Linked DNA regions of Homo sapiens. The protein of the gene in region 4 interacts with the protein of the main gene of each other region in a pairwise test. Each region holds a gene or a part of one and is shown on either strand. Other genes may lie near its edges. The genes, in order: HSF2BP, CCDC57, MTUS2 and ZNF648.

Region 1 (7,024 bases), on a different chromosome or scaffold from region 4:
CATATGTGCTTTGGAGGTGGCCAGGAAGCCCATAGGAGGAGGGAATGCTCAGTGTGTGCCCTGAGAGCTTTGCCACTGTCAGAAAGCACCTGACAGGAACAAGTTTGATTGTATTTGACACATGCCGGCACTACCACAGAAAGTTTTAGCAACAGATAAGAGGGGACATCTGTACTCTCAACTTCTTTTTTCATACTTCCTATTGAAGTTTTCATCTCTACTCTCAGGCATTTAATTTCTAAGACTGCTGTTTATTTTTAATTGTCTTAAAAAATAGCATCCCATTCTTGTTTAACAGATGATATAGCTTCTTTTACCTCCTTGAGGAAGATATTAATAATAGTTTTTTAAAACTTTTCTTCTCACTGCACAATCTCTTTTCTTTGTCCTCCTTTTGTTCCTGTTTAAAATGATAGCCATTTATCTTTTTCTCAGGTGTCTGGTGATGTGTGGTTGTCTGGTCATGTTTAACAGTGGGATTTATAATGCCGATTGGAAGCTGTGAGCATATGGGTGGAGCTTCTGAACTTTTCTGCAGTGTGAGCTGGTGCATCAATTAATTGGGAACCCATAGGTCAGTATCTTCGACTGTGTTGTCTTGGGTTGTTCAGATTGTCTGGAGAAGACTCACCCACCCTTATTTCTGGAGGGATGAAGGCCTATAAACTCCGGAAACAAAGTAGAGATAGAGGGAATGTCTTAGAGCTTGTAGGTATGTGTTTATCTAATCCACATGTTTTCCAGACAGAACCTCCATCCTCAATTGTGCCTGATGTTTCACCTCCAGAGATTCTTTAGAAAATAAATGTCCAGGCCAGGTGGGGTGGTTCACACCTCTAATCCCAGCACTTTGGGAGGCTGAGGTGGGCGGATCACCTGAGGTCAGGAGTTCGAAACCAGACTGGCCAACATGATGAAACCCCGTCTCTACTAAAAATATAAAAATTAGCTGGGTGTGGTGGCAGGTGCCTGTGATCCCAGCTACTCAGGATGCTGAGGCAGGACAATCACTTGAACTGGGAGGCGGAGGTTGCGGTGAGCTGAGATTACGTCACTACACTCCAGCCTGGGTGACAGAGTGAGACTCTGTCTCACAAAAAAAAAGAAAAGAAAAGAAATGTCCAGTCTCTACTAGGGAAGGGCATTTTTCCAGAGGCAGGGAATAGGGGAGAGGGTCCAGGGATCTAATTTCTTATTATTATTTTTATTTTTTTTTAGTTTTGAGATGCAGTCTTAACTCTGTCGCCCAGGTTGGAGTGCAATGGCGTGATTTCAGCTCACTGCAACCTCTGCCTCTGGGGTTCAAGTGATTCTCCTGCCTCAGCCTCCCAGGTAGCTGGGATTACAGGTGCCTGCCATGACACCTGGCTAATTTTTGTATTTTTAGTAGAGACAGGGTTTCACCATGTTTTTCAGGCTGGTCTCGAACTCCTGACCTTAGGTGATCCACCTACCTTGGCCTCACAAAGTGCTGGGATTACAGGCGTGAGCCACCAAGCCTGGCCTTCTTCTTATTTTTAATATAAAGCCAGATTTGTTGAGTTATAATTTACATAGAACAAAATTCACTTGTTAGTAGACAATTGTATGAGTTGTGACATAAAACTATCTCAGCATATAACTCATATGCTGAGTTATGTGGTAAGTATGTGTTTAAATGTATAGGAAATTGCCAAATTGTTGTCTCAGGTGGTTGTACCATTTTATTTATTTTATTTTATTTTATTTTATTTTATTTTATTATTTTATTTTATTTTATTTTATTTTATTTTATTTTATTTTATTTTATTATTTTATTTTATTTTATTTTATTTTATTTATTTTATTTATTTTTGAGACAGAGTCTCGCTCTATTGCCCAGGCTGGAGTGCAGTGGCACGATCTCGGCTCACTGCAACCTCCACCTCGTGGGTTCAAGTGATTCTCCTGCCTCAGCCTCCCAAGTAGCTAGGATTACAGGCGTGCACCACCACACCCAGCTAATTTTTGTATTTTTAGTAGAGATGGGGTTTCACCATGGAGGCCAGGCTGGTCTCAAGTTCCTGACCTCAGGTGATCTGCCTGCCTCAGCCTCCCAAAGTGTTGGGATTACAGGCGTAAGCCACTGCGCCTGGCCTGGCAGTACCATTTTAAATTTTCACCACTAATCTATGAACATTCCAGTTGTTCCTCATTCTTGTCAACACTTGGTATTTTCAGATTTTTATTTTTTAATTTTAGCCATTCTAATAGGTATGGATTTAATTTCCATTTTTCTAATAGCCATGATGCTGAGCATCTTTTTGTGTGCTTGCCATTTGTGTATCTCCTTTGGTGAAGTGTCTTTTCAAACACTTTCCCTATTTTTATTGGGCTGTTGTGTTACTGAGTTTTCAGAGATGTATGTGTATTCTGGATTTAGGTCCTTTATCAGATACGTGTTTTGCAAATGTTTTGTCCTCATCTAGTGGCTTGTCTTTTCATTGTGACTGTCTTTTGAAGAGCAGATTTTTAAAATTTTGGTGTGGCTAATAAATTATTTAGTTGTATGGATTATGCTTTTGGTTTTGTGTCTAGGAAATTGTTACCTAATTCAAGGTCACAAAGATTTTTCTCCTGTTTTCTTCCAGAAGTTTTAAAATTTGGGGTTTTACATTTAGGTATGTTATTAATTTTTGTATAATTTTTGTATGTTAGGCAAGGTATAGATTGAAGTTCTTTGTTTTTGCATATGGATGTTCAATTTTTCCAGCACCATTTGTTGTAAAGGTTATTCTTTCTTGATTGAATTGAATGTATACCTTTGTTGAGAGTTCACAAAGCTGTGGTCTGTTTTTGGATCCTCTAATTTTATTTCACTTATCTCTTTGTCTGTCGCTCTGTCACTTGACCAGTACCACACTCTTTATGGCCATAAATGTTGAAATCTAGTACTGCAATTCCCCAACATTTCTCTTTCTCTAAATTGTTTTGTCTGGTCTAGTTCCTTTGTTTTTCCAAATAAATTTGAGAATTACTTGTTGATTTCTGCTAAAATTTCAACTTGGATTTTGGTTGGCATTGCATTGATTATATAGATGAATTTGAGGAGATTTGACATTTTAACAATATTGAGTCTTCTAGTCCATAAATATGGCATATTCTCTCCATCTATATGTCTGTGGATCCTTATATCTGTGTTTTGTTGTTTTCAGCATAGAAATCTTGCACATAGTTTCATGAGATTTATACTTAAGTGTTTCATGTTTTGGTGCTATTATATAATATATGGTAATTTTTAAAAAACATTAGATTTTTAATTTTTTGTTATAAGTATGTGGATACAATTGACCTTTGTATGTTGAATTTGTATTCTGTGACTTTGCTAAACTCAATTAGTTCTAATAACTTTTTTTCTAGTTTCTTTGGGATTTTCTGTATAGACAATCATATCATCTGCAAATAGAGACAGTTTCATTTCTGCCTTTCTAATCAATAAACCTTTTATTTCTTTTTCTTGCCTTACTGCACAGGCTAGGATCTCTAGTATGATTTTGAATAGGGGTGATAGGATATTCTTGCCTTGTACGTCATCTTAGGAAAGAAGCATTCAGTCTTCTATCATTAAGTATGATGTTAGCTGTGTGTTTTTTGTAGATGCCCCTAATCTGGTTCAGGATGTTCCTTTTTATTCCTGTTTTGTTGAGGGTTTATTATTATTATTACTGTTATGAACAGATGTTGAATTTTGTCAAAAGGCTTTTCTGCATTTATTGAAGAGATAATTTTTTTTTTCTTCTTTAGTCTGTTGTTACGGTAGGTGATGTTGACTGATTTGCAAATAATGAGCCAGCCTTCCATTCCTAGAATAAGTGTCTATTGGCTGTGAAGTATTATCCTTTTTATATATTGCTGAATGCAATTTGCTATTTTTTTGTTTAGGATTTTCGTGTCTTTGTTTATGAGGGATATTGGTCTGTTCTTTTATTTTAACATCTTTATCTAGTTTTGGTGTCAGTGTAATTCTGGCCTCATAAAAAAAAGTTGACTTATTTCCTCCTTTTCTGTTTTCTGGAAGACTTGTTTAAAATTTCTATTATTTCTGTTCTAATTTTTTGATAGAATTTGACAATGAAGCTCTCTGAAATGTTATACATTGCATGACTGTTTACCTTTAAATAATAATCCGCTGCTTCAGGTATAGTGTAAGTACCTTAAAACAGTGTTTTCCCATCTATTGATCATATTTATTTCAGATTCTTTTTCTGAAATTCCTGTATTATTATTCCAGGTTATCTGTGTGTCTGCTTCTGTTGATTGTCACTTGACAATGAGCCTTTTGTTTCCTTTGCCTTCTTTTGTTTGTTTGTTTGTTTGTTTGTTTGTTTGTTTTTGAGACAGAGTCTCACTTTGTTGCCCAGGCTGGAGTGCAGTGGCGCAATCTCAGCTCACTGCAACCTCTGCTTCCTGGGTTCAAGGGATTCTCCTGCCTCAGCCTCCTGAGTACCTGGGATTACAGGCGTGCGCCACCACACCCAGCTAATTGTTATATTTTTAGTAGAGATGGGGTTTCACTATGTTGGCCAGGCTGTTCTCAAACTCCTGACCTCGTGATCCGCCCGCCTTGGCCTCCCAAAGTGCTGGGATTACAGGTGTGAGCCACTGCGCCTGGCCTCCATTGCCTCTTCATTGTAATTTTTGATTTCAGTGTTGGACATTGTGTGGAGGGCAGTAGGCAAGGTCAAAAAACTTTTTCTGTAATGGGCCAAATAAATATTTTGAGTTTTGAGAGCCACGTGTAGTCCCTGTTGCATGTTATTCTTCTGGTTTTTACTTTTAAAAAATTACCCTTAAAAAATGTAAAACCTGGCAGGCTGCAATGGTTCATGCCTCTAATTCTGGCCCTTTGGGAGACTGAGGTGGAAGGATTGCTTGAGCCCAGGGGTTTGATACCAGCCTGGGCAGTGTGGTGAGACACCGTCTCTACAAAAAAATGTGAAAAATTAACTGGGCGTGGCCACATGTTCTGTGGTCCCTCTTTCTTGGGAGGCCGAGGTGGGAGGATGGCTTGAGCCCAGGAGATTGAGACTGCAGTGAGCCATGATTGTACCAGAGTACTCCAGCCTGGGAGACAGAGCAAGACCCTGTCTCCAAAAGGAGGAGGAGGAGGGGGGGGGGAGGAGGAGGTGGTGGAGGAGGAGAGGAGGGGGGGGGAGGAGGAGGAGGAGGAGGAGGAAAGAAGAAGAAGAAGAAGAAAAAAAAAGTAAAACCATTCTTAGCTTGCAGGCTGTACAGAAACGGGTCATGGGCTACCTTTGGCCTCTGGGCCATGCGTACCCTCTCTGTAGAGGGGAATGAGGTGGGTAGATAGTGTTATATTCAGGAATGGCCACTCCTCTTTTTCCGCTGGGTTTTCATTGTTGGGGAGTTAAGGTGGGTCTGGGTTTTGTTGTTGTGTATGTACCTTCCATCCCACTGGCTTCAAATTCCTCTAACCTTTCCTTGAGCTTAGGATGAGGGCTGAGTTGCCAAAGCGTCTTCACCCATGGCTTTTGGCCTTGCCTCTGTGTCTGCCTTAGCTGCCCCTTATCTTTGGCAGGTCTCTACTAGAGAAAGTTCCCCTCCCTTCCCCCAAAGTAGGAGGACTCTAACAGGCTGGCTTAAGATGGCTCCTGGACCCTCCCTGAGGGCTAGAGCAGATTGCCTTTTATCTTCCCTGGCCACAGCAGTCTTCTGATTCTGTAGGTGAGAAGCTTCTTGTTAGGGCTTAGTGCTGTGGCAGCTCCCACTGAGAGACTGTTCAGTCTGCTCTTTCAGTCTACATCTTAAAAGGTTTTTTTTTAATTTTTTTATTTGTTAAGTAAATGTGCTAAGAAAGAGGTGCTGATTTTGAGCCTGGTTCCAGTTGCAGTACCCAGTCAAGGAGTGAATTTACGGCATCGTAAAGGCTGCCAGTAGAGAGGAATGGTAAGGAAAGTTGGCTCCACTCTGGTGATGGATTGAAGCTTCCAGTGGGTTTGTCTAGCTATTTTTTAGTGGTTGCTACAATGTATGCAAGGCTACCAGATTCTATAAGTCCTGGGGCCATTCCCATGGAAAATAAACAACGTGAATTTTATATACCCAGTGACATTGTGTAAACTCAGTGGCCCTGATAAGTGCTGTATCTGTATGTGGTCCCTGAGGGATTTGCTGCAATTGGAGTGAAAAAGAAGTAATACTTTTTAAAACAATCTTATAAGTGGACAGAATGCTACTGTCGACAAAGAGTCAAACTCTGCAAAATATTTGAAGAGATTTGTTCTGAGCCAAATATGAGTGAGGTCCTGAGAACATGTGCCCAAGGTAGTTGGGTGCGGCTTGGCTTTATACATTTTAGAGAGGTGTGAGACATCAATCAAAAACATTTAAGAAATACATTGGTTTGGTCCAGAAAAGTGGGACAAAGCTGGGGGGCGTGGGGCTTCCAGGCTATAGGTGAATTTAAACATTTTCTGATTGATAAAGACCTGGGATTGATAGAAAGGGAATGTTCAGGTTAAGGTAAAGATTGTGGACATCCAAGTTCTTTTGAAGTCTTATGGTGGCTGCCTTAGAGACAATAGATGACAGATGTTTCCTATTCAGATCTTAGTTAATCTCTTTAGGATTAGGAGGGTCTCGAAGAAAAAGATCTAGCTATGTTAGTAGAGATTCTTTACAAATGCAGATTTTCCCCCACAAAGAACAGCTTTGCAGGGCCATTTCAAAATATGGCAAAGAAACATATTTTGGGGTAAAGTATTTTTATTTTCTTTCTTGTCTCATAATGTTATGCCAGAGTCAGGTTGGAAAGTCATGATATATAGGGTTAAATAAAACCCATCTGATGAGAATTTGTGATTTGTAGGACATGACTCCCCAGACCCCTTAGATAGGAATTTGGGCAAGATAAAAAAAATCAGAGTTTAGTCCTCACTAGCAAACAGAGAAAGCCCTCATCTTTCTAGTTTAACACTTTAAAATTGTATGACTGTAATATTTGAAGATGATGGTTATTAGACTATTGAGTTTTTTGATGCTGCTT
Region 2 (7,024 bases), on a different chromosome or scaffold from region 4:
GGTTTGTCCAGCTATAAGAGCTAGGTTCTATAAAATAGCTTCAACGCAGCACTCTGTCCATTTCACAGCTGAGAAAACTAAGGCTGCTAAGTGGCTACGTGAGGACTGACAGCAGGTCAGTCCCTCAGAACCAATGCCCCTTCCCACCCAACACCCTGCTCCTGGAAGATTCACCACCTGATATGGTTTCGATATTTATCCCTGCCCAAACCTTTGTGGAATTGTAATCCCCAACGGGGGAGCTGGGGCCTGGTGGGAGGTGTTTGGATCATGTGGGCGGACCCCTCGTGGCTTGGTGCCGTCTTTGTGACAGTGAGTTCTGGGGAGATTTGGTCATTTCAAAGTGTGTGGTGACAATGAGTTCTAGTGAGATGTGGCATCTCTCCACCACTCACACTCCCCTCTTGCTTCGTGCCTGCTCCTCTTTCACCTTCCGCCATGAGTAAAAGTTTCCTGAGGCCTCCCCAGAAGCGGGTGCCAACACTGTGCTTCCTGTACAGCCAGGAGAACCGTGAGCCAATTAATCTTTCTTTATAAATTACCCAGCGTCAGGTATTTCTTTCCAGCAATGTGAGAATGGTCTAATATACCATCCGAGAGTACATTCTTTTGTTCTTTTATTTGTTCATCATGGACTGATATTTTGGTAAAACCATAAAAATAAAGTGCTACAAAAAATAAAATTTAAAAACAAAAATCACAAAAACCAATAAGCTGGGCACAGTAGCTCTCGCCTGCAATCCCAACATTTTCTGAGGCTGAGGTGGGTGGGTCATTCAAACTCAGGAGTTCCACGCTGCAGTGAGTGGTCTATTAAAAGATAAAGTTTCTTCTGGCTGGTCCTAGCTGCCCCCAACCCTTTAGAGGTCCAAGTATGAGCTCGATTTGGACACAGAAATCCCCCACAACTCTTCTCTGGTGTCCACACAGGGGAACTGCATGGCCTAAAAGGGCCACACCCAGTTGGGGGACAAGCACAAACTTCCGGCCTGGTGGGACATGGCCGGGGTGCTGCTGCCAGAGCAGGAAAAAGCCCCAGCCTGTCTTAGGGTACCTCTGTATCTCCGGGCACCTCTGCATCTCGGGGCACAGCAATGGTTGTACAAAGTCCCAACTCCCAGAGGGAGCGGGTACAAGGGCACAGCCAGGCTGAGCACCGGCTGTGACGAAGCACAAGGAGGAGGTGGGTAAGGGGCTGCAAGACCCGTGGGCCCCTCCAGAAAGGGCTGGTCAGCAGGGCACACCCGCTGGGGGCACGAGGGCTCCCTGGGGGTCCTGAGACGGCGCTTCTCTGACGAGGCTCTGGAGCAAAGACGGTCTCCTCCATCCCACATGCTTCCTGCGATGCAACCCCCGCGCCCAGCACCCTAGGACCATCACGCCACCTGGACCACCTCAGCCTGGCTCCTCCAAGCTGCTGCGTGCCCACCCATTGCCGGAGCTAACAGGGTCCCTACCGACCATCTCAGCACTCTCCCACGCTCCTGTTCCTCGTCTCCCTCAGCTCCTACAACGGCCCCACCGTCCACCCCGTGTAATGATCCTTGACCTCTTGCTGTCTCCCACCTTGTGCCCACACCTCGGCCACCACAGTGTCTTACCACAAGAGACCTCAACTGGCCTCTGCTGTGCACTCCCACTTTTTTGGCTGCCAAAGGAATCTTTTCAAAAATGCTTTACCAGGGCCGGGCGCAGTGGCTCATGCCTGTAATCCCAGGACTTTGGGAGGCCGAGGCGGGCGGATCATAAGGTCAGGAGATTGAGACCATCCTGGCTAACACGGTGAAACCCCGTCTCTACTAAAAATACAAAAAATTAGCTGGGCGTGGTGGTGGGCGCCTGTAGTCCCAGCTACTTGGGAGGCTGAGGCAGGAGAATGGCGTGAACCCCGGAGGCGAAGCTTGCAGTGAGCTGAGATCGCACCACTGCAGTCCGGCCTGGGCAACAAAGAGAGACTCCATCTCAAGAAAAAAAAAAGGCTTAACCAGGCTTCCCATTCCACTGAGGACATCTGGACCCCAGGCTCCTGCCTGTCGCTGCCACGTGCCCTCAGAGCCTGGGATGTGTGGCAGGTGCCGCTCTGTCTGCAAGGTTCCTCCTAACCGCAGGGCAGGCTCCTCCTGCCAGTGGGACCTCAACCTGAACATCACTGCAGGGAAGCTTTCCTAACTTCCATCTCACGTTGGCACAACGCCATCACCCCAGTGTCGGGTGTAGTGAGTCCCACTGTCTGGCACAGTCTTGGCGACTGAAACATTTTGTACACAGAGGACATGCACACACCTGTGCACACACCTGTGCACACACAGGGAAAGAATTGGACTATCAGCAAATACACATTAAATGATGGAACACCACTGTGATCTCTGATGACTCAGAACCCTTCACACAGTGCCCGTGAGTCATGACAACGGTTCTCTGCAGAGCCTGAGGTCTGCGAGGTCTACGGGCCTCTTCTCTGAGGGACTGCTGTGGCCCCCGTCCTGTACCAGCTGCCCTGCCACTGGGCTTGCCTCCTTAACTCATTGGTCGCAGCCACCCATGGGGGTTGCCGTTCTGAGAATCTGATCATGCAATCTTATCTGGCCTCAAATGTGCCCGCGACTCCTGACCATTTTCAAAATAAAGTCCGATCTCCTTGGCACAGCGTATGAAGACAGACCGAGGACACGGCCCAGCCTGCGTGGCTCCAGCTGCTCCCTGCAGGCCCAGAGCAGCCTTTATCTGCCAGTTCCTGTGCACGTGCTACTCCAGGTCCCCATGCCCCCATCTCCCCACTGGGTGAGGTTCCTTCCCACCAGGTCTCAGGACTCAGCGGGTCACCCTGTTTTCAAAAGCTTCAGGCAGCCAGGACAGGCAGATGGCACGTACCACCCCCTCTATGTGAGATGGGTGCTCCCAGGCCTCTGTGCTCTGCACAGAAGAGCAGCCTGAAAAATCCATACAGCAAGTGACTCGGTGCAGCACCCGGTGAGAGCCCAGCATCTCCAGCGCTTTATCCATCACACTCAGGACCCATAAGAAGCCCCACACACCAAGGGCCTGTAAGTCAGCCGGGCTCGGCTCGCCTTTCCTTCTGACCTCATCATAGAACGGCCTGCTCTGTTTCTGTACAAATCCCATCTCGGGATGATCCCCAAAGCCCCAAGGCTGAGATTAATTGGCTTTCAAAAGCACGGACTCAGCATCTGGACGCAATCTGCCTGTCGGCCAGCAGGCGTCCCCAGCAAGCACCTGGTTTCAAGAAGGACCATGAAGCTTCCGGGTTGGGGAGCGGCAGGAGAAGCCGCCGGGGAGGGAAGGCCTCGCTGTGCGTTCACCCTCTTTCAGGAGAACCAGTGGGGCTCCCTGAACCAGCCAGCTCCCAGCAGGGGCTGGAACAGCATGGGTGGGCATCCCATCACTTTGATTTTCTCATTTTAAAAATACTGAGCTGAGCTAACGGTGATGTTGTAGGTTTACCTGTTGTGGTACAATGACACATCATGGTTTTCTTGCACAGTTCCTGGCTCATAACTCTCACACGTCACAGTCTTTTGTTGCAATGTTGGGCGTGTCAGGCCTCAGGAAACAGAATCCTTCCAGGTCTCCACTCTCACCTGACTTTCCATTGTAGGTCATAAGATCCTCCCCAGAGCTCCCACCCTCTACCCTGGGGGAAGGAATGCTGACTTCAGGAAGCCTCCCTAAACACCCAAGAGGACAGGGTGTGGAGAGGTTCCTGGGGAGTGGTGGGTGGGGTGTGGGGGGGTCCTCCAGGAAGCCTCTTCCCCCATATCTCCCCTTACGCATCTCCTCATCTGTATCCTCTGTAATACCCTTTATAATAAACTGTTACACGTATGTGTTTCCCTGGGTTCTGTGAGTCACCCCAGCAAATCAATCGAACCCAAAGAGGGGGCTGTGGGAACCCCAACTTGAAGCCAGTGGTCAGTCAGAAGTTCCGGAGGCCAGGACTCGCGACTGGTGTCAGAAGCGGGCAGTCTTTGAACCACCATTGCAAAATTATAACTCAGACAGTGAAAGAGATCTGACCTAACCAATTCCATCGTGCTTCTAACCTCCAAGCTCTCCTTGTTCATTCCTGGGTGTAGGCCGAACTAAGTTTAGGAGGAACTTAGTTTATAGTTTGAAACAAAGACAGTAACAGCCCTTTCCCGAAACAAACCCCCTTTTTGCCTGGGGACTAGACTGCCTTTGTAGGACTAACAAATTAGCCAAAAGATTAGAAATTATGGTTTAGGGCCAGGTGCAGTGACTGGCCCCGGTTGTCCCAGCACTTTGGGAGGCTGAGGCTGGATCACTTGAGCCCAGGAGTTCGAGACCAGCCAGGGCCACACGGCAAAACGCTGCCTCTACCAAAAATACAAAAATTAACTGGGGCGTCGCTTGTAGTCTCAGCTACCAGGCAGGCTGAGGTGGGAGGATCGCTTGAGCTTACGACGTTGAGGCTGCAGTGAGCTGTGATTGCACCACTGCACTCCAGCCTAGGTGACAGAGTGAGACCCTGTCTCAAAAATAAAAAAAAAAAAACAAAAAAGAAATTATGGTTTAGGAGTCATGCAGCTACAGGCTACAAGATTCTGACCTTCCCCAAATTGTTCCTGGGGTAACATCACTATTGTAAAACCTAAGATCAATCAGTGCTTGAGATATTTTGCAGACCCTGCACTCCATGGATCAGCTGGCACCCCCGGATTGATAAACTGGCTCATCCGATCTTGTGGCCCCCACCCAGGAACTGACTCGGCGCAAAAGGACACCTTCGACTCCCTACGCTTTCATCTCCAACTCACTGGCCCCCTACACACTAAGTTATCCTTAAAAACTCTGATCCCCGAATGCTTGGGGAGACTGATTTGAGTCATAATAGAACTCCGTTCTCCCGCACAGCCGGCTCTGTGTGACTTACTCTTTCTCTATCCTAATTCCCGTCTTGGTGAATCGGCTCTGCCTGGGCAGCAGGCGGGGTGGACCTGTTGGGTGTTTATGTCTTGGGTGTTTATGTCTTGGGGACTGAGCCCTCACCCTGTGGTCTGACCTCTCTCCAGGCAGGCGGTGTTGGAACTGAACCGAAGGACACCCGCCGAGTCTGCGGCAGAACTGACTGCTCATGTGCTGGTGAAAACCTCCCTCTCCCACCACATTTGATCACAGAAGTCTTCCTCTGTGCTGATGATTCTTGTGGTATCAGAGTAGAGGAAAAACAGTTTGAGTTTTCCAGAAATACCTGTGAATAAAATACACATAAAATAAAATCTACTAAAAATACACAGAGAAGGGGTTTCTCCATGTTGGTCAGGCTGGTCTGGAACTCCCAAACTCAGGTGATCCACCTGCCTCGGCCTCCCAAAGGGCCGGGCGCAGGTGTGAGCCACTGCGCCCAGCCCAAATATATATATTTTTATGACCTCCATGTATAAATATATTTAATACCCTTAACTTATTATTATTATTTTAGACAGTCTTGTTTTCTTGCCCAGGCTGGAATGCAGTGGCGCGATCTTGGCTCACTGCAACCTCTACCTCCTGGGTTCAAGCTATTTTCCTGCCTCAGCCTCCCAAGTAGCTGGGATTACAGGCGCCCGCCACCATGCCCGGCTAATTTTTGTACTTTTAGTAGAGATGGGGTTTCACCATCTTGGCCAGGCTGGTCTTGAACTCCTGACCTCGTGATTCACCCGCCTCGGCCTCCCGAAGTGCTGGGATTACAGGCGTGAGCCACCGTGCCTGGCCTAATACCCTTAACTTATAAGACACTTCCTGGGACTGGAAGGCAGGTCTGGGGTGGCTCATTCACTTTGTACTCAGGACAGAGGACTCAATCTCAGCATCCTGAGTAGCTGGGACTACAGGCAGGCACCACCATGCCCAGTTAATTTTTTTTTTAAATTTCTTGTAGAGATGGGGTTCCACTATATTGTCCAGCCTGGTCTTGAACTCCTGGCCTCAAATGATCCTCTCACCTTTAAATGTACTGAATTTAGCTCTTGTGGCCCCTCTTGGATTCCAGAGAGTGCTGCTAAGCCCTCTGGGAGGCCAAATTCAGTAATCTACTCTTTTGTTTTGAAACAGAGTCTCAGTCTGTCACCCAGGATGGAGTGCAGTGGCACAATCACAGCTCACTGCAGCCTCGAATGCCCATCTAAAAGCTACAGCTCAAGCGATCTTCCCACGTACTTATAGGTGTGAACCACTGCACCCAGCCTCTCATCTACTCTTTAAATAGGTCCAGGGGACAAAAATTATGTACCTGTGACCCCGTGTTTTTTTTCACTTCCTCCACTGACTGCCGAAGAGTAGCCACAGCCATTTCTAAAACTGAAATAAGAGAGATGGGCAGTAGGTCTGAATTCTGTCAGTGGCACTTGCTGGAGAAGAGGGGCACCACTACCACGAAGGAACATGAAGGGCTGTTTTCTTTGAACGTGCATTTGCCAAAAAAAAGTGAGTAAGTGAGAAATAGAAGTTGAAGTCGAAGTCTTGTAGTTGAGTTTAGACTTTGCGGACTTTTAGAACCACGTATACATGTTTCATGTGCCAAAAACAAAGCACAACAAAAAACAAAAAAACTTAAAATCAGTAAGGACTCAAAATGAAGTAGAAACAGGTGAACCTAACTTGATTACAAGTGCGTAACTTGTAATAAACTCACAGGTTTTTTTGGTGTTTGTTGTTTGTTGAGATGGGATCTCACTCTGTCACCCGAGCTGCAGTGCAGTGGCATGATTATAGCTCACTGCAGCCTCAAACTCCTGAGCTCAGATGGTCCTCCTACCTCAGCCTCCAGAGTAGCTGGGACTCAGACACACGCCACCATGGCTGGCTAATTTATTTTGTAATTTTTTATAGAGATGGGTGTCTCACTTTGTTGGCCAGGCTGGTTTCCAACTCCTCACCTCAAGCGATTTTCCCCCCTCAGCTTCCCAAAGTGGTGGGACTACAGGCGTGAGCCACTGTACCCAGCCAGTTTTTAATATATACAGAGACACAGATATACTGAAATAGATTTGCATGTGTATAG
Region 3 (7,024 bases), on a different chromosome or scaffold from region 4:
ACTGTGAACATGACCTACCAGCCTACAACACCCAGTAGCAGTTTTCAGGATGTTAGCGTGTTCGGTATGGATGCGGGGTCCCCCTTGGTAGTTCCACCCCCTACTGATAGTGCACGCTTGTTGAACACGTCCCCCAAAGTGCCTGACAAGAACACTTGCCCCAGTGGGATCCCCAAGCCTGTCTTCACACATTCCAAGGACACACCTTCCTCGCAGGAGGGAATGGAGAACTATCAGGTTGAAAAAACAGAGGAGAGGACAGAAACTAAGCCCATCATTATGCCCAAGCCCAAGCATGTGAGGCCCAAGATCATCACCTACATCAGGAGGAATCCCCAGGCCCTGGGCCAGGTGGACGCCTCGCTGGTTCCAGTGGGGCTTCCATATGCCCCGCCCACATGTACCATGCCTCTTCCCCACGAAGAGAAGGCAGCAGGTGGTGACCTGAAGCCATCTGCCAACCTCTATGAGAAATTCAAGCCAGACCTGCAGAAGCCAAGGGTCTTCAGTTCCGGATTGATGGTGTCTGGAATCAAGCCCCCGGGACATCCTTTCAGTCAAATGAGTGAAAAGTTTTTGCAGGAGGTAAGAGAATGTCATTATGATATGGTCTATAAGTTGACTGTCCCAATATCTGTGACATATTTTCAATGAGTTATGAAAGTAAAATGTCCTCTTTAAGTGAATTACAGATTTTCATGGATACACTTGTGAAGAAATGGAGTTTTTGACTAGAGGAGATTGTCTAGAGAAATGACCATTTTTAACTAGAAGAGTCTGATTATCTTAATAAGATGTACCCAATATCTAAGGAGACCCATTTAAATTTCACTTGCTATAATTCATATGAAATTAGATGAGTATGCCTTAAATAGGCTTCCATGTTTAAATAAGTGAATATAATATAATATAAGCCAGGTTAAAGGAAGAAAGAATGCAAAATTACTGTGTTCTTCAAATAGATCAGACTCATTCCTCAATGGGGAGTATTTTCTACCTGGGAGTATCTCTTATTCGCATGCGTGAAGAACAGCAAATGAGCAGAAAACGGTGTGTTAGGCATGGACTCTTTCTTTAAAATAAAAGTAATAATTACAACTAACATATAATTGAGGGCCAGCTCTACACTGGGCCCATATAATACAGCGTTTGATCTTTGTTAATCTTCACTAATCCTTGCAGTAATTCCCTGAGGGTTGGTATTGCAGTTTTTTGTTTGTTTATGTTTTTTTTGGCTTTTTCTTTGTTTTTGAGATGAAGTCTCGCTCTGTCGCCCAGGCTTGAGTGCAGTGGCGCGATCTCGGCTCACTGGAAACTCCACTTTCTGGGTTCACGCCATCCTCCTGCCTCAGCTTCCCTAGTACCTGGGACTACAGGCGCCCGCCACCGCGCCTGGCTACTTTTTTGTATTTTTAGTAGAGATGGGGTTTCACCGTGGTCTTGATCTCCTGACCTCGTGATCCGCCTACCTCGGCCTCCCAAAGTGCTGGGATTACAGGCGTGAGCCACCGCGCCCAGCCGGTATTGCAGTTTTTATCACCGTATAGATACAGAGACAGACAGAGAGCTTTAAGTCACCCACCACAAAGGAAGGAGAGCTCTGAGAGTCTCACTCAGGCCTGTGCAGTTTCAGACTGCACTGTGCTGTCCTTTTTAGCTATGGTGAGTCATCCTTCGAGACCTCAGAACTAAGATTTGTCTCCTGAAGGAGTCTCTTCATGACAGCTGAGTGATCAGTTAAAAGTAAGGCAGGAGCCAAGGACAGCGGCTCACACCTGTAATCCCAGCATTTGGGAAGCCGAGATGGGCAGATCACAAGGTCAGGAGATCGAGACCATCCTGGCCAACATGGTGAAACCCCGTCTCTACTAAAAATACAAAAACTAGCTGGGTGTGGTGGCATGTGCCTGTAGTCCCAGGAACTGGGGAGGCTGAGGCAGGAGAATTGCTCGAACCCAGGATGTGGAGGTTGCAGTGAGCTGAGACCACGCCACTGCACTTCAGCCTGGCAACAGAGCGCGACTCAGTCTCAAAAACAAGGGCAGGATGAGATCATCCTGTCTCTAACACCTTCCAGGGCTGCCCAGGTTGCTTGGAACACAAGCTGGAGCCTGTAGGATGGCTCTGCCTTTAGGATGGGATGTGCTCACTGGGGGTCCGTCAGCTACCTGCCCTCCTCTCCTTCCACTCTCCCTTTCTCACTCTGCTGCTTCAGGACCTTTGCACCTCCCTCTGCTTGGAATGTTCTCCCAGTTATCCAGATGGCTCTCTCCCTCACTCCCTTTAGGTCTGTGTTCCAATGTTATCTCCTTGGGAAGGCCACCCATCTTCTCTCTGAATCCCTTTTCTCTGATTTATTTCTTCCTAGCACCTACCTCCACCTGCCATAAATACTTTTTTAGTTTTCCTGAATTGACTATAATGTAAACTCCATGAGGGAAGGGATTGTTTTCAATATTTTGTTCCCCGTGTTCCCAGAATTTAGAATGGTGCTTCTTATAAGTATGTGCTCAAAAAATGTTGAGTGATAACTGAATCATGAACTCCATATGTGTTGGAACTAAACAAAAGTGTACCAAGGGTTTCTAGAGATAGGATGATTGAGTCCAAATTTGGACTCTAGCTTGGTTAGATATATTGGCATATTTAAAGAATGCATCAATCACAACAGAAGTTGTCATATCTAGCACAAAGACAAAGTTGAATCCATTCTCGGCAGCAGACATTGACTTAGGCAATCACTGACGAGGTGCCCCAACAAGCCGACCAGCTGTGCTGCCTTGCCGCAGGTCCTTAGCAACCAAATCACACAGCTTGCTCCCTGTGTTCTGACTCTGGGCCTGCCAACAGGCCTCTGATTATAACGGACTTCCTACCTCACATCTCTAGAGAGAGGATTCTGGCTGGAGAATTCAGGGGTCCAGTCAGCTTGGCAGGGGTTTGTCTTGCTGTGCGGGGCTGCATGGCATCTTGTTTATAAGTGGCTTCTTACTCTGTGCCCTGCAATGAGAACGTGTTCTGGCTAGAGGACACTTGAGTCTGGCTTTAGGCAGTGGTCTCCAATTAAAAGTGAACAAATTGCCCTTCTGGATTTTTACGTCAGTCTCTGAGTTTAGTTATAGTGAGTCATTTTCAAATTTCTAAACATTCATCCACCTGGGCCTCTGAGGCTCAGGGTCAGGCTCTGAAGCTTTGCTCTTCTATAAGGCAGGGAATCACTGCAGAGGTTCCATGAAGAGACCTGTCAGTCCATTTGTGTTGCTATGAAAGAATACCTGAGGCTGGGTAAATTATAAGGAAAAGAGGTTTATTTGGCTCATGGTTCTGCAGGCTGGAGAGGAAGCATGGCACCAGCATCTGCCTATGGTGAGGCCTCAGGCTGCTTCCACTCAAGGGGGAAGAAGAAGGGGAACCACGTGTGCATTGATCACGTGGTGAGAGATGAGCAAGAGGGGAGTGGAGGAGGTGCCAGGCCTCTCTTTAAGGACCAGCTCTCATGGGAACTAATAGAGCAAGAACTTGCTCATTACCAAAAGGAGGGCACCAAGCCATTCATGAGGCATCTGCCCCCATGGCCCACACACCTCCCACTAGACCCCACCTCCAACATTGGAGATCACATTTCAACATAAGAGTTGGCACAGACAAGCCAACCATATCCAAACCATAGCCAGAGCCTAGATTTTTCTCTATAAAAACAAACTCATGAGGGAAATTGATTTGGATATGTAGGCCCAAACCCCACATTGTCTGTAATTCTTTCTTTGTGCCCTTCTATATTTTCGTGTATATTTCTTTTCTGTGTTGTTCTGCTTCCTCCAAGAATAGTTTATATATTACATGCATAGTTTTCCCCAAACTATTTTCTCTACTTCATTATCTAGGCACCACGTCAAGACTCAAGGAAATGGGATTGTATGGACATTGTGTGGCTTTGGCGGTTCTGAGGGGTTCAGAGAGACCCCACTGGTGTGGAGAGAGCATCATGGCCTCGCACCTCGAGCATCCCAAAGTCTTCTTCAAAGAATTTATTTGTTTTTGGGCCTCGACTTTACAAGTTCGTTTGAAATGTCAGTTTCCCTCCCTGTATCTGGGGACCATTTTCTGCCATCATCAGAACGAGACCCAGGCCTCTTCTCAGGTTGCGCTGGGCTCATTTCTGTGGTAACCTTCTTTACTCAAAAGTGGGGAACAGGCTGGTCCTTGGCCACCTGCTACAGCTATGACATGATGTAACCCAGCGAGTCCCCCTCTTGTGTTTGAGCTCAGTGCAGGGAGAAAAAACAGCCGACTTCTTCTGCCAGTGTGCCCCAAGCTCATCATGGGGTGGCTGCAGTCTGGTCTCTAGGAAAAGAACACATTTTTGATAATGTGTTGCAATGGAAGTATTTTTCAGTTATAGAAGCCAGATTTTTTTTTAAATAAAATGAGAACCTCTTAAAAATAAAAACTCAAACCAGCTTCAGACTCTTCCATCCTTATCGACAGATCCCTGCTGGTTACATAGCATGGGTAGAAGTGGAAAAATCAAGAGTAAGCACTCTTCTGAGAGAGGAACTCTTTTCCCAATTGGCAGGAACAGCACAGGCATTTAAAACTTCCAGAAGTGGCTTCCAAGATCATCTGGGATCTAGTCATGTCCAGGTATTAAATATGTTTACCTAAACAGGTGCCCTCTGCCACTGGCTCTCCTGAGGTCTCAGGGACACTCCCTCCCTCCAACAACTTGGGAGCCCTTTTTATTTTTGGTAAAGGGAGGTGGGAAGAAAGGGGCTTGGCTGAGAGGATGGAGTGAGGCGATGTGCGTGCAGTGTACAGAGGTGTGATCCAGGGCTGCTCTCCTTCCTCACTGTCTGCTGCCACTCATCTCTGGGGGGCACTGCATCGATTGGGGTTTGCCAGACAAATAGAACTAATAGGTGTGTGTGTGTGTGTGTGTGTGTGTGTGTGTGGTGTGTGTTCACAGGTCTATATTCATCTATACTTATGTCTCTCAATATATATTATCTATATATGTTTCAATATATATATCTCATATGTAGAGACAGATATAGATGTATATATAGAGAGGGTACATCACATAATCTCTATATATATATATAGAGAGAGATTGATTGACTGATTGATTTTAAGAAATTGGCTCATGATTGTAGAGGCTGGCAAGTCAAAAATCTGCAGGGCAGGACAGCAGCCTGGAGACTTAGGGTAGAGTTGGTGCTGCAGCTTGGGTCTGAAGGTGATCTACTAGCAGAATCCCCTTTTCTTTAGGAGGAGTCAGTCTGTTTTTATTAAACCCTGCAACTGATTAGATGAGACTCACCTACATGCTGAAGGGTCTGCTGCTTTATTCAAGGTCTGCTGATTTAAATGTTAATCTAATATAAGAAATACTTTCATGGCAGCATCTAGAATGCTTGACCAAATATCTGGGTATTGCAACCCCACCAAGTTGACACATAAAATTAACCATCCCAGACACCCTTCCCCCACCACTATCCCAGTGGCTTGTTAACAAAGCCTTCACCTGTACCCTCTGTCTCCACGGCACACTATCCCATTGAGGACAGTGCAGGGCAAATAGGAAGAGGGACAGCCTGGTAAGAATGTATTTGTTCATATGCCTTGACTTAACGAGTTTGTTTGAAATCATAGGGTTCTTTTGTTTGCTTTCAAAGTGAGTTCTCTAAAAACCCTCCATTGGGATGGAGGGAGGGGAACAGCAACGTTTGGGGTTTCCAAACGTTGTTTTATGACTGTGCAGCATCACCTGCTGTATTCTGTCAGTAAAGATGAAGGAAAAGAGTATGAAGCTTTCTGTAGATTCCCTTGTTTAATTAAAAATGCACAGACTAGACATCAAAGGCGCAGTTTTCCCCCTTTTAAAGAATTTGCGATCTCACCAGAAACAAATTACCCAACAAAATGACAGGCATTGAAGTTACTGAAATCCTTAAGATCATTGTTGAGAGAGAATGTGGTGAATTTTAATCCCTAAAAACAACTCAGTTTCAAGGCACTGAGTAACTACTAAGATCAGCATATTGCAATCCTAAAACCTGACAGATGTAGTTTGGAAATGATATTAATTTCTTCATAAGAGCACCTGCTCAAAGCAATGTGCAATGGGACCCAAAATTTAGAAACTAAAATTAAAAAAGGGTATATATGAGAAAAACCAGAGATTGATAGTGAGAGTAAGTAGAGAATGGTAAAAAATTTATCAGAGTGCAGATGTAGAATGTTCTTTCATAGGAATATAATTTGCTATAGCCAAGGACTATCTACTATAACAGTCATGCATATTTTACAGTGTGATTATGATAAAACTTTAAAGGCCTAATCTTTTGTTTCTACAATGTCAATTTGAAGGAGGACTTTGTATCTATTTCAACATTAAATGAGTATCAATTTAAGGGTTTATCTCTTCAACAGCTTGGATCAAAGCTTTTATAGCCCCCATTAAAGAATACTGTTAAATGCTTATGATTCCTGAGATATAAGTTTGACACATAAAATGTGCTGTGATTTAGAACAGAGTTAATTAACAGATGTATCTTTTCATGCATGGCCCTTAGCACTATTTTTTATTGTAACTTAAAGGAATAGTTTATTTAGTTCTCTCTCTTTTTTTCCTGTTTAATATTAATAAAACACTGATAATATGAACAGACTTAGTGAGTACAGAATTGCATATATAAAAGGTACTGCCCACAGGTTGTATTCTAGGCCAAACTGCTAGCTACAGGAGAAAGTGACAGTAACGTTATGTTATTATTAAACTTAGGAAAAAATGGAAACATGATTCTTCAATAAATATTTATTGACTTTAGCTATGTGCTAGACATTGTTTTTGGTGCTATGAAGTCAGCGGTTGATGAGATTGTGCCCTAGAACTTCCATTCTGGTGAAACTTGCTCAAACCTTCCTGGGAGCATCGCCTCACTCGAGCAGACGACCAGAGGAGATAACTCAGGCTCAGGTTTTTAACTAGGTAAACACATAGTACAGATCTGAAAATACATTT
Region 4 (7,962 bases):
ACCAAGATCATCAAACAAACAGAAATGGGATTAAAGCCAGGCCTTTCTGACTCAAGGTTGTGTACTGAGTTCCTGTCCAATTCTGCTTTCTGCATGTGTATTCATACTCAGCAAAGTTTGATGCCTGCATGAAAAACAATATTTAAAGTCTCCACCATGTATTGGCCACTTAACTGCCTCTATCACTCCTCCTCAAGGATGATGAAGGGCTGGGGCAAGAAGAAGATTAGATAGTATACCTCACCAACCATTCACACTGTTTGGAAGCAGCTCAGGCAGATTGCTGTGATGACAGCTGGCAGCAGAGCATGGGGAAGAACATAGGCCAGTGTGGCTCATGTTCCACCACGTCACTCCACTCCACCCATCCAGTCCATGTCATTGATAGGCACAAATGAGCTCCTGCACCATGCCCATCAAATGCCCTTCTCTCTCCCAGATGCCTTGTGTTACTCCTTCAGTCTCTGCTTTTTCCTCTTCCCAGACAGGCGGGCAGACCCTTGTTTTCACTACTGCCAGTCAGCAGCTCAGAGGAATTGCCAGATTTTAGAGGCAGACTTGCAAATAATAACCAATACATAAAAGAACACCTACTTTGTTTCCATGCTTAAGGAACTGGGCAGAATGACACAGATTTCAGAAGTTCCTAAAAGCAGGAAAAGGATGTGGCCTTAGGGAAAGGGCCTTCCGCTCTCCATTTCTAGTGGTCCTTACAGTGAGTGTTGGAAAGATTAAATGAGACAGTAAATGTGCTTGTGCTGTCAAAAGGGAAACACACCCAGGAAACAAAAGGGATTCCTGTCCCTTGGAGTCTGAGCAATAGGTTGACCAGTGGGATAGGCAAGACCTGGGATTCAGATCTGAGGCCTGATCTGCACCCACTATGTGCCACTCATTAGGATAGTGAAGTCTCACATAGATAAAGGCACATGGCACTTCCAAACAGCGTTCTTAAGATGGCTTGGAGGATGTATCAGGGTAGGTGACTCAGGGAGATAAGGGGCTTGTGTACACCTTGTCTCTTGATGTAGCCTCCAGGCCAGTCCTGGTCCCATTCACCACTAGGTGGACTATCCCATACCAGTGAGATGGCAACACCAGTGTGTCTTGAAAACCAAGGAGGACTCACGTGGACAATTTAACGTGGAAGTCCCAAGGTGTCTGCTAATTACTCGGTTGTTACGGTTTCTAGAAATAAAGCATGATGGAAAACAGGCTGTCCAGGCTGAATGAGGAATAGGTGATGAGACTGTGCAGGCACTTAGTGGGAACCATCTCTCTGGGCAGCAAGGCTGAGGGAGAAGAATGCCTTCTGGGGGAATGACTATAGTGACCACAGATACACAGGTCACATAGCCTTGGGGAGGAGGGACTAAGACTTTCCAGGAGGAAATAAGGGTAGAGTCAAGCAAAGGCCAAGCATGCAGGCTCTGAGGGACAGTGTTTGGGAATCTAATGTGGTAGTGGTTAAGAGTGCAGACTCTGATACCTTGGCTCAAATTGCAGCTCCACTATGTAGGAACTGTGTGGCTGTGGCCCTTAAGCTGCCTATGGCTCTGTATCCTCCATCTGTAAATGCAGGTAACACTAGTAGTAGCTGCTTCGTTAGGATGTGATGAAGATTAATTGGGGCATTGTGTGTGGCATGCTAGCATAGTGTTAGCACTAGTAACTGCTCAATAAATGTACCATTGCTGTGAGGCTGGGAATGGGAGGGACATACACACACACACTCATCCCAGCTCCAACTTTCATCTCCACAGGCTCCTTCACAATCAGTGAAGAATTAGGTACTTTCTTGCCAAAGATAGCTGAAGCTCAAAGCCCGTACCATATGGACACTTGGGATATTTTGAGCAACCATGTTGGGATGCGGGCTAGTGGCAGCACCAACTGATAACGTGGCTATGGGAGCTATTTTAAGTGTTCACCTACTCTCCCCATCCCATGCTCTCCCCAAATGCCAATGGTTCTCAACATTTTTTGGATCATGGCCCCTTCAAGAAATGGATGGCTACCAAGGATCCTCTTGTCAGAACAGCACATGTCCCCATATCTGCCACATTCTGCACTTTATTTCAGAGGCTCTATGGACTTCAGAATTTGAACCCTATTCCAGATATTCAGACTCAGAGACCTAGAGGTATGTCTCTGCTGCCTGCCTCTTTCCTCTGAAACCATGCCTTAAAAACACCAAGGGGACATTGAAACCTGCTTTTCTGGATCACATTCTGAAAACTGCTGTTCAGAAGAGTTGCAGCTTCAACAGGGCCACAGGGATATAAAAGCAGCCCTGGAATGATGTCTTCCCTAAAAACAACAAAATCATCAATAATGAATAGGAAGAACCAATATTGTGAAAATGGCCATACTGCCCAAAGCAATTTATAGATTCAGTGCTATTCCCATTAAACTACCACTGACATTCTTCACAGAATTAGAAAAAACTATTTTAAAATTCATATAGAACCAAACAAGAGCTTGTAGAGCCAAGACAATCCTAAGCAAAAATAACAAAGCTAGAGGCATCATGCTACCCAACTTCAAACTATACTACAAGGCTACAGTAACCAAAACAGCATGGTATGCTACAAAAACAGGCACATAGACCAATGAAACAGAAAGAGAACTTAGAAATAAAACCACACATCTACAACCATCTGATCTTCCGAAAACCTGACAAAAACAAGCAATGGGGAAGGGATTCCCTATTTAATAAATGGTGCCAGGAGAACTGGCTAGCCATATGCACAAAATTGAAACTGGCCCCTTCCTTACACCTTACACAAAAATTAACACTAGATGAATTAAAGACTTAAACGTAAAACCAAAAACTATAAAAACCCTAGAAGAAAATCTAGGCAATAACATTCAGGACATAGGCATAGGAAAAGATTTTATGAAATTGCCAAAAGCAATTGCAACAAAAGCAAAAATTGACAAATGGGATCGAATTAAACTAATGAGCTTCTGCACAGCAAAAGAAACTATCATCAGAGTGAACAGACAACCTATAGAATGGGAGAAAATGTTTTCAATCTATCCATCTGACAAAGGTCTAATATCCAGAATCTACAAGGAACTTAAGCAAATTTACGAAACCCCCCACAAACAACCCCATTAAAAAGTGGGCAAAGAATGTGAATAGACACTTCTCAAAAGAAGACATACATGCAGCCAACAAATACATGAAAAAAGAGCTCAACATTACTGATCATTAGAGAAATGCAAATTAAAACCACAATGAGATACCATCTCATGCCAGTCAGAATGGCGATTATCAAAAAGTCAAGAAACAACAGATGCTGGCGAGGTTGCGAAGAAATAGCAACGTTTTTACGCTGTTGGTGGGAATGTAAATTAGTTCAACCATTGTGGAAGACAGTATAGCGATTCCTCAAAGATTTAGAACCAGAAATACCATTTGATCCACAATCCCATTACTGGGAATATACCCAAAGGAATATAAATAATTCTATTATAAAGATACATGCATGCATATGTTCAATGCCGCACTATTCACAATAGCAGACTTGGAATCAACCCAAATGCCCATCAATGATAGACTGGATAAAGAAAATGTGGTATATATACACCATGGAATACCATGCAGCCATAAAAAGGAACAGGATCATATCCTTTGCAGGGACAGGGATGGAGCTGGAGGCATTATCCTCAGCAAACTGGCAAAGGAACAGAAAACCAAACACCGCATGTTCTCACTTATAAATGGGAGCTGAACAGTGAGAACACATGGACACAGGGAGGGGAACAACACATATTGGGGCCAGTTGGGGGAGTGCGGGGTGGAGAGAGCATCAGGAAAAATAGCTAATGCATGCCGGGCTTAATACCTAGGTGAAGGAAGGGTTGATAGGTGCAGCAAACCAGCATGGCACATGTTTACCTATGTAACAAACCTGCATATCCTGCACATGTATCCCGGAACTTAAAATTTTTAAAAATCGTCAATAATAACAATGAAAGCAGCTAACGTTTTTGGGTACTTGCTATGTTCCAAACACCGAACTAAGCTCCTTACATGCATTATCTCATTTAATACTCCCCAAACTTCCATGATGGCAATAGTATCCTGGTCCCTGTTTTGCAGATGAGACACTAAGGCACACAGAGGTTAAATAACTTGCCCAAGATCACACAGCTAGTAAGTAGTAAGATTCAAACCCAGACCCAGACCGTGCTGTCAATCAGTATACTTTGTGACCACCTAGTGACATCACAGGAACCACACTTCCATCACCTATTTTAATGCCCTGAATGTTCATCCTAATAAATGCACATTAGACTTGAGTGGGTAAAAATTCTGAATGTACTGAGTCTTCTACCTTGGGCCAATCCTTCTCTTCAAAATGAACCTGCATGGGAATCAATGCTGAAAGTGGAAAGAGACCCCAGACAGGCCTGGCATCTGTATGCATAAGACAGAAAACCATCTCCCTGCACCCCTACTCCCAGTTAAAAGGCTGTGGGCATCTTTGAGCCAATGAATGGGCTGCTACAAAGAATTCTGGGAATCCCAACCCCTCACAGTTCTGCAACTCACAGTCCTGCAAAAGGTGGGTACTAGAATAGGGAGGTGGGCATATAGGCCAAATACTCTGTTCTGCCTTCCAGGAGGGAAAAAGCATGCTACCCAGGAAGCTCACAAGTGACATGTGGCCCATGGGCATACCAGGGCTAAAGTGAAGGATGGACTGCTCTGTGGAAGGAAGGAGTGAAAGTGAACAAGAGGCATAGGGCCACCTGCAGGAAGACTGAGAGGAGGGAAGGAGGAAGGCTGGCTTTGGCAGGGAGGGGAGGCAGGAGCAGAGGGAGCCAGAGGATCGGTTCAGGCAGTGAGAGAGGGCAGCCCCACTCTATTTCCCAGGCTGCTCTCTGGATGCAGGCAGGAAGGTTGAGTGTATTACACTGGCCCCACCTCCAGAGGCTCTCTCTGCAGCCGCTGGACTGGACACAAAGCGTGAGAGACAGAGACACCATCTCTGCTGATTTGTACCTAACTGGTTCCTGTTGCTGAGAGCCCACGTGTCACAGAAGCCAGGGCAGAGGCCCCACACTGCTGTCTGCATTTCCCAGGTAAGCAACCGTCTGTGTGTGAGCCAGGAGTGGAGAGCAAGGCCTGAAGGCGGTGAGCAGAGAAGAAAGTAGGAGGCGGCTGCCTAGGATGGACTTCAGTACAATCTGGAAAGAATGAAGGAAAGAAGAGGGGTATGGGCTGGGGTTGCAACAAGCCCTTAGGGTAGGCTTCTGCAGAGTGTTGATGGATGTATGAGGTTGGGGAGTCAAAGGCTGCATTTGGTCCACTCTTGGCTGGCAAGTGCAGAGGAAGTTCCAGCAAAGGACTGCTCTGACAGCCTCTGGGGACTAGCACATCTGGGGAGCAGAGAGGCCCGCCATACCATGGCATCAGTGTTCCTCTTTCAGACCAGGTATATTTGTGCAGACTTTGCCAGAAAATCCCTCCCTGTGCCCCTGCCTGCCTCCAGGTCTTCCTGGTGGTCGAGAGCATGCGTGTGGCAGCGACAGGAGGAAGAAAGCAGGACATATTCACTGGGGATATGGCTTCAGATGGAGGAGGGATACCTCATCTGAAAAGAGAGTCTCCTGACGGGCTCTGGAGAGGAGATTGGTTAGCTAGTGGAGGGCTGTGTGCCACCCTAAGGAGGCTCCCCTGTGGCCCAGAGGAAAAGAATGACACACAGACTGTGGAAAATGGGGTATTTGTGCTGGAGGTGGGGTGGGGAGCGGGTAAAGTCAGTGATCTGTGAACAGTGCCACAGAAACAGGCAGTATGTTGTCGTAAAGAGGGAAAGAGACCTAAGACATGTGTTTCATACAAATCCAGCATCCCTTTGCTGTCCCTGCTGGGGGACCTACAGCCCCGGATCAAGCCTGCTGGTCTGAGCAAGTTCTATGAGGTTGGCTAGTGGTATGTCCCCTCTATGAACTACACATTCACTCCCTAAGATCCACTATGCTGAAAATATGTCAGATCTGGGCTCCTGTCAAAAGGCATGCCAGCTACCCTCTGCCATGTGATGGGTGAGGGAAGCAGTGAGAGAAGAGGAGTGGTCCCTGGGCTTTAGGGCACAAAGAGACGTGAGATGCTGAATTCCAGTCACAACTGCAATGTGTCCTCCCTCCATCCATGGCTTCTGTATCCAGAGCAGAAAGTGAGGATTCCTCCATACTGCTCCCTCTTCATACACACAGGGTAACTGGGCTCATGATCAGGCAGAAACCAGGGAAGAACAGTTTAATGAGATGGGGATAGGGTTAACTGTACCAGCCAAATACAAAGATCACTCCTTTTATCCAGTCTGAGATGGCAGTGAAAGGTGGGCAGAGGTAGAGAGAAGGAGCTTTCAGAAGGTAAATACTCAGTGACTAATACTCTTGAGCACCACAGGCAGTGGCCTCTGCAACATGGGTCCTGGCTCTGATGGGCAGCCACTGGCCTCTCTCTTTGGCGGAGGGCAATCTGGGTCAATGAAAGCAGGGAGGAGCCCAGCAGTGAGGCCCTGTAGCCAAGGTTCCTTGGCCCAGAAAACACAAGGGGCTTTGATGCCTGCAGAAAGCCACGGCTTTTCACCCCAGGATGCTGCAGCTGCTCTTGGGCAGAGCCCAGCCCCAGAGCAGGCTTCAGTCTGAAGGCCACAGCTGGGAGGCAGGACCATTTGGGGCTTAATGGCCTTAAAATTAGAGAGAAACCCCACTGCTGCTGTCTATGAGCTGTGTGGCCTTGGGCAGGTAAGTAACCTCAATAAAGCTCAGTTTCCTGGTCTGTAAAATTGAAAGAATAATATAGTAATAATAGCATCTATCTTTTTTTTTTTTTTTGAGATGTAGTCTCGCTCTGTCACCCAGGCTGGAGTGCAGTGGCGCGATCTCAGCTCACTGCAAGCTCCGCCACCATGCCCAGCTAATTTTTTTGTATTTTTAGTAGAGACGGGGTTTCACCGTGTTAGCCAGAATGGTCTCAATCTCTTGACCTCATCATCCGTCTGCCTCGGCCTCCCAATAGCATCTATCTTAAAGTTTGCTGAGAGGAATAAATGAAATTATGTTTGTGAAGCACTCAGCATAGTGGCTGGCTCATAACGTGTGCCCAGAAAAATGAGAGTTTTAATACCCCCTCTGGGATTCTCAGAAGTTTCTCTCCAGACTAAAGCAGATTTAGCCCTCTGGTCAACAGTTGTCCCCCTGGAGAGGCCCTCAGTACCCTGCCTCTCTAGTAACTCCTTTAAAATCTGTCACTCATCCAATCCTTGTTAACCAATCCTCCAGCAGGCTTTCTCCATGTCTTCAAGCTAAAATAAAATAAGTTTGAAAATAAAACCCAAATGGCTCTCATGTCTCATGCATTATGTTTGAAATCCTACATCTGGCTTCTTGAGTCAGGAGATGTGTACCCCAGTGGACATCTGTGGTATGCCAGGGGATCAATATGGCACACTTGGGGGAAGATTAAACATTTAAACCCAGGTAACTTTAATACTATTTTCTATAAAACAAATGCGACTGGCAGGGCACAGTGGCTCATGCCTGTAATCCCAGCACTTCGGGAGGCCGAGGCAGGTGGATCACAAGGTCAGGAGTTCAAGACCAGCCTGGCCAAGATGGTGAAACCCTGTATCTACTAAAAATACAAAAATTAGCCGGGCATGGTGGTGGGCACCTGTAATCCCAGCTACTCAAGAGGCTGAGGCAGAGAATCACTTGAACCGGGAGGCAGAGGTTGCAGTGAGCCAAGATCGCGCCACTGCACTCCAGCCTGGGTGACAGAGCGAGACTCCGACTCAATTAAAAACAAAAACAAAAATGAGACATAAAATGTAAACTCTCCTGAATGTTTATGATGAAGCAAAATTTCAAAGACAGGTCAAGCTCTCAGTGGGCATCCTCTGCCCCCGGGTGCTTATGGGTAGCCTTCCTGGCAGT

The links.
Region 1: the proteins of ZNF648 (region 4) and HSF2BP interact in binary tests that used the Homo sapiens proteins (3 or more experiments, as listed by UniProt).
Region 2: the proteins of ZNF648 (region 4) and CCDC57 interact in binary tests that used the Homo sapiens proteins (3 or more experiments, as listed by UniProt).
Region 3: the proteins of ZNF648 (region 4) and MTUS2 interact in binary tests that used the Homo sapiens proteins (3 or more experiments, as listed by UniProt).

Annotation. Positions count from the first base shown.
Region 1 is NC_000021.9:43,530,473-43,537,496, reverse strand, and holds part of HSF2BP (heat shock factor 2-binding protein), read left to right. Parts: intron 1-7,024. UniProt on the Homo sapiens protein: Meiotic recombination factor component of recombination bridges involved in meiotic double-strand break repair.
Region 2 is NC_000017.11:82,202,819-82,209,842, forward strand, and holds part of CCDC57 (coiled-coil domain-containing protein 57), read right to left. Parts: intron 6,322-7,024; exon of another isoform or gene 6,314-6,321; coding exon of another isoform or gene 6,254-6,313; intron 5,231-6,253; coding exon of another isoform or gene 5,029-5,230; exon of another isoform or gene 3,515-5,028; coding exon of another isoform or gene 3,463-3,514; intron 1-3,462. UniProt on the Homo sapiens protein: Pleiotropic regulator of centriole duplication, mitosis, and ciliogenesis. Critical interface between centrosome and microtubule-mediated cellular processes. Centriole duplication protein required for recruitment of CEP63, CEP152, and PLK4 to the centrosome.
Region 3 is NC_000013.11:29,026,319-29,033,342, forward strand, and holds part of MTUS2 (microtubule-associated tumor suppressor candidate 2), read left to right. Parts: coding exon 1-585; intron 586-7,024. UniProt on the Homo sapiens protein: Binds microtubules. Together with MAPRE1 may target the microtubule depolymerase KIF2C to the plus-end of microtubules. May regulate the dynamics of microtubules at their growing distal tip.
Region 4 is NC_000001.11:182,058,703-182,066,664, reverse strand, and holds the start of ZNF648 (zinc finger protein 648), read left to right. Parts: upstream 1-4,952; 5' UTR 4,953-5,097; intron 5,098-7,962. UniProt on the Homo sapiens protein: May be involved in transcriptional regulation.